Regions from separate parts of the Homo sapiens genome. Here region 1 is linked to region 2. The links come from fine-mapping of genetic effects on gene expression. A gene starts in region 2. The other region holds a variant in brackets. All regions are shown on one strand. Distances are between the middles of the regions.

What was found. PIP is the estimated chance that this variant, and not a neighbour inherited with it, causes the effect.
Region 1: its variant is the best candidate, but not a certain one, in a credible set for the expression of CADPS2 in pancreas (GTEx, PIP 0.51).

What each region holds. Positions count from the first base shown.
Region 1 is chr7:122,624,696-122,627,606 of GRCh38, reverse strand. The region is part of intron 4 of CADPS2 (calcium dependent secretion activator 2); the gene reads left to right. Among named protein-coding and RNA genes, the nearest start is that of RNF133, 73 kb to the left of the region's middle. The variant G/AG (reference allele first, on the strand shown) is at 1,426.
Region 2 is chr7:122,885,125-122,888,035 of GRCh38, reverse strand. It overlaps CADPS2 (calcium dependent secretion activator 2), which reads left to right and starts at 1,576. Exons shown (of 30, transcript NM_017954.11): 1 at 1,576-2,037. The coding sequence starts at 1,699. RefSeq lists silencers at 1,169-1,328, 1,339-1,498, 1,569-1,648, 1,659-1,708, 1,749-1,878 and an enhancer at 2,239-2,288.

The sequences.
Region 1 (2,911 bases), 260 kb after region 2:
TTCTCAGGTTCATGACTGAGAAGAAGGTGTGTTCATAAACTCCTGGGCTGAGTCAGAAGAAAGGGTTAGTGATGAACACACAAAGGCTTCTCCTTGAGAGAACCCTAATGGTTTCATCAGAGATGTTGATAGAGTGGAAAAAACATGGAGAAAGAAGTAAAGCTGATGGGGTTGGAAAGCAAAATATACCTCTAAAAATAGGATACCTTTTGATGAAAATATTGACATAGATTGAGCAGGTTTAATTGCTTTCCACTTCAAGTTCACCAAAGTGAAGCCGTCTTAATGAAATATTTTTAAGCCTAATAACAATTGACTGACCTTGCTGAATTATTTTCTGACAATAATCCTACAAACCTTGTAAGGGCAGATGATATCATGAAGTCAATTTTATAGAAGAGGAAATTGAGGCTTAGACAAGATTATTTATTTCACCATGATTACATAACAAATAAGTGGCTGAGGCAGGCCTCAAATCCTGGCCTTGCTTCCAGAGCCTGGGCTCGCTCTCTTAACATCCTGCTGCCTCTGCAATCTGATCATTCCAGAAGAGTGGTTAATAAACAGCTATTAGTTGGCATTCAGGAACACCCCCTCCCACACTTCACAGAACAACACAATATAATAACAGTGAAACTACAGGGCAAAATCTCTGTTTCAAGAGACATGTTGACTTTAGTACTTCAGCCAAGAGGTAATTAGGAAGTAGTGAACAAAATGTGTACAGGGCCAGAAAGACCTGTGACCAAATTCATGATAGCTATTTTCTAAACATAATAGTAGGCACGTTACTTAACACTTTCGAGCCTCATTTTTTCTATCCACAAATTAATTGACCAAATATTTATTGAACACCAACTATACAGCCAGGTGCAGTCTTAGCTACTTGGGATACATTGGGATAAAATGAGACAAAAATATTTCTGCCAGGCCCTGGTGGAGCTTACATTTTATTTGCGATAGCCCCACAATAAGGAGTAAACATGCCGTGTAATTGAATTATGGAAGGTGATCATTGTTACTTAGAAAATAGATCAGAAAAAGTGGGATGAGGAGTGTAGGAGAGAGGTGGTGGGTGGTTACAGTTTTCAGTCAAGTGGTCAGGGCAGGCCAGTTCTTGATAGTACAATCCTTCCAGATATTCAGGCCAAAAAACTTGGAATCATCTTTGACTCCTTTTTCTCATACCTCATGCAAAACTTATCAGGAAATCCTTTATCTTTACCTTCACAGTATTTCCAGAATGTGACAGTTGTTACCATCCTTCCCTTTCCACTGTGGTCCATTCATCTTTGTCTCTTGTCTGGATCATTGTTCTGTCCTTTTAGCCAGTCTCCTGGATTCTACCCCTGTCCTCATTAACACAACAGCCAGTGATGTTCTGCACTAAATCTGTGATGATTCCCTATGTTGCTGAGAAAAAAA[G/AG]AAAAGTTCCTAAAATGGCCTGCAAAGTCCTGTGTGATCTGGTCTTTGTTACCCCAGTCCTGTGTGATCTGGTCTTTTTTACCCCTCTGACTTTATCCTCCACTAAACTCTTGCCCTTGCTCAATCCACTTTGGCGATGGTGGCCTCCTTGCCTTTCCTTGCCACAGGGTCTTGGCCCTGACTCTTCACCTGCAGCGAACTTCCACTGACATTTACATGGCTTTCTCCCTGCTGTAGTCAGGTTCTCCAGAGAGACAGAGCCAATAGGAGATTATATCTGTATTTTCATATATCTAGACCAATATCTAGGTAGATATAATAAATATGTATATAATATTAAAAAGTAGATGTTATGCATACATACATGTTATGTGTGTATATATATGTGTGTGTGTGTGGGAGGGCAGGGAGAGAGAGAGAGAGAGATTGATTGCGTTCAAGGAATTGGCTCCCACGGCTGTGGGCACTGGCAAGTCCAGAATCCATAGGACAAGTAGGCAGGCTGGAAATTCAGGTGAGGGTTGATGTTACAGTCTTAAGTCTGAAATCTGTAGGGCGGACTGGCAGGTGAGAAACTCAGACAGGGTTTCTGTGTTTTAGTCTTGAGGCAAAATTGCTGCTTCTTTAGGAAACCTTCGCCTTTGGTCATAAATCCTTCAGCTGAGTGAATGAGACCTACCTACAGATGTAGGAGGGTGATCCGATTTACTGAATTTACTGATTGTAAATGTTATTCACGTCTAAAGAATATCTTGATAGCAACATTTAAATTCATGTTTGATCCAACAACTGGGCACCATAGCCTAGCCAGACTGACAAACAAAATTAATTGGGCTAGATGCGGTGGCTCATGCCTATAATCCCAGCAGTTTGGGAGGCTGAGGCGGGCGGATTACCTGAGGTCGGGAGTTTGAGACCAGCCTGACCAACATGGAGAAACCCCGTCTCTACTAAAAATACAAAATTAGCCGGGCGTGGTGGCGCCTGCCTGTAATCCCAGCTACTCAGGAGGCTAAGGCAGGAGAATCACTTGAAACTGGGAGGCGGAGGTTGTGGTGAGCCGAGATTGTGCCATTGCACTCCAGCTTGGGCAACAAGAGCGAAACTCTGTCTCAAAAAAAAAAAAAATAATTAATCATCATACTTCCTTATCCACTTTTAGCTCAAAGGGCATCATCTGCTCATTGAGACCTTCCCCTACCACCCCGTTTAAAGCTGCAACCCTTCTCACCACTCACTCTGTGTTCCTCCTTCTAGACTTTTTCTCCATGCCACTTATGACTTTCTATCAGAAGAAATTATTTCCTTGTTTACTAAGTCTATCAGGACTTTGTCCATTATCTTCATGGTTCTATCCAGGGGCTTGGAGCAGAACACATAGCAGACACTCAGGGAATGTCTATCAAATGACTGAGTCTTACATGCTGGCATATTTGTGAGAAATCTGGGGCTGTGAAGAATTCTTGAATTATTTGTAGACTCCCTC
Region 2 (2,911 bases):
AGCATCAGCTATTATGACAAGATTGCTATTTGTTTGCCTTGCCAAAAATAAAACATTGCCTTTAAATACATAGGTGTTTGAGATTTTCTATTTCTTGGCAGTTTGTGATCATCCCACAGCCATGCTCTTACTGAAGACCTTTTATTACTAGGGGGCCTGTTATGGATTAGGCAGAAAAATAGGTAAGACTCCTCAGGAGTAAATGCCTCCTTGTCTTTTACCCATCTAGAGAGAATGTCAGTAAGTGCAGAAGTCTCTCTTGTGTACCTAACTATATGAAAGTGGCCTGAAAAAGCTAAAACTGCTGTTTGACCATGGTGGTAGAGGAGCTCAGAGCTGGTAGTTAATTTGCCCTGTGTTATTTCCACTGAACTTCATCACCTCCCTGCCCACCTGGTCGCTGCACACTCCACCTGGTGTTGAATGCATTGTTTTGCCTATTTCCCCCTCTGTCAGGACTTAGGACATAAGATACAGAATTACTATAAGAAACTCCTAGGTGGTTCCAGCACTAGGACTGAGAAATCTGCGCAGATAAGGCAGGCTTCAGCGCAGCTACAAGACGCCGACTTGAGGCCAGAACCACCAGCGACTGAGTGTCATGTGCCTTAGTCACCGCGGGCTCCGCAAAAGGCTAACAGTGCTGGACACCGGGAGGGCGCTCAAATCTTTGTTGAATAAATGTCCACACTACACAACCTGTTTTGAGTCAACTGCATCCCAACCCAGAAAATAATCGAGATATGTTTGAGCTGAATCAGTATCATTTTGCACATATAAAATCTCTCTTGCCTTGAGTCTGCAGGACTAGAACAGTTTAAAAAGTAAGCCTCGTTGGTTTTCTTTTTTTTTTCATTACTCCGACTTTTATAATTTGGGCTTCAGCATGAGTATCAAAACGGCAGCAGAGCAGAGTGAGACTTTTCAAAGTCTTGTCGCAAAGATACTTCGTGGTGAAGGGCTCCAGTCCCGCTTTTCCGCGCTGGGGTTCAATCCTAGGCAGCCGATTCGGGTTGGGGAGATGTCTCGGCCGCTCCCCCTAACCTCTTGCTAGGGAACAGTCCCTCCCCGCTCCCCATTCCACCTCCACCTGCTGGAGAAAAGATCACAGGTGGTAGGGTGAGGGTAGTCGGAGCAGCCCCGGTGGACGCTTACACGGGCCATCGCGCTCGGCCGCTCCCCGCCTTTGCAAACTGTGTGCTAGGGCTCCAGGCGGGCCCGGGCAGCAGCGGCGGCGCGCGCACGCGCACTCCGCGGCCCCGCGCGGCTCTTCAACATTCAATTCCACGTGTTGCTTGTTGTAGGCGCCACAGGTTCCCCACCTGCGTCCGGGCGCTCGGGCGGCTCCGCCTCTGCCGGCGGGCTCTGGGGAACCGCTGGGTCGGCGCGCCCGGGGCTGGCGGAGCAATTCCTGAGGCGCCCAAGCTCACCCCCAACGCTAACTCCGCCTATTCAGTCCCGGCGGCTCCCCCTCTCCCCCCTCCCAATCCTCCTCCCGGCTCCTGCCCGCCCCTTTCGCCCTGGTGGTAGGAAACACTCCTGAATCTAACTCGACGTGTCCGGAAAGCCCTGGCCAGTTTTCCTTTCGTTCTGCGGCCGCTGCAGCCAGCCCCGCGGCTCCCTCAGACCCGCGGGCGCAGCCGCCGGGGGTGAGGCGCTTGGGGACCGCGGGCCGAGCGGCGGGGATCCCCGAGCACCATGCTGGACCCGTCTTCCAGCGAAGAGGAGTCGGACGAGGGGCTGGAAGAGGAAAGCCGCGATGTGCTGGTGGCAGCCGGCAGCTCGCAGCGAGCTCCTCCAGCCCCGACTCGGGAAGGGCGGCGGGACGCGCCGGGGCGCGCGGGCGGCGGCGGCGCGGCCAGATCTGTGAGCCCGAGCCCCTCTGTGCTCAGCGAGGGGCGAGACGAGCCCCAGCGGCAGCTGGACGATGAGCAGGAGCGGAGGATCCGCCTGCAGCTCTACGTCTTCGTCGTGAGGTGCATCGCGTACCCCTTCAACGCCAAGCAGCCCACCGACATGGCCCGGAGGCAGCAGAAGGTGAGTTGCGGGACCGGGCGCCTCCTACCACCACTTCTCCCTGGGTTTTTCTCCCGGGAGAGCTCTGGGACGCCTCCCGTCCTTCTGCGAAACGCAGGACACCGTATTTTTGTTAGTCTCTGAGGGCAGAGGAATCTTTGGGGACAAGACGGTGCTTTCACCCGCCGGGTATGCGGCTGCAGCGGACACCTCTTCTCCTCCTCCCCGCCTGGGCTGGCAGGAGCTGTCAGCTCACCATCCGTGAGACAGAGACCGACAGCGCCGGCCGCGCCGCGGTTGCACCCGGCAGGCGCAGCTCTGGCCGGATTAGAATGCAACTCCCATCAACTTTAATTTCCAACAGCACTGGTGCATTCCTGTCCACCTAGCCTGGCGTGATATTGCTAGAGCTGGGTTTGCCGAGGGTCTGAATGAGTGTTGTAGCTAGGCGAAACAGGTGGAGCCCGAGTACTTCTCTTAGCTAGAGTGAAGTCTTCACTTAAGAGGGGTAGAAATTTTCCTCAGTGAATAAAAAAGTTAAATTAATACGTTTCCTATATTGTCATACAACCAGGACATCAAATCCAAACACCGAGAAGGCATGCAGCTTTGTAAAGTGTTTGTGGGTAAGTAATTTCTGGTCTGGGCAGGCCTGATTAATGAAATATACTATTACTGATGAAAGATAAAGGATTGGTGCATGATCACTTCATAACAAATGCTTTCCAAATGCTTTTTTGGGGAACAAAATGCTTATTCTCCCCCAAAAGGTAAGAAGTTTGTTTCAGGTGAAAGGCTGGCCAACTTGAGTTTCAAAACAAGACCCCAGGGGCCTGATGTTCTGTACCAGACACGAGTAATGACTCAAATTGTCCTAAGTGGTTAAATGTTTACA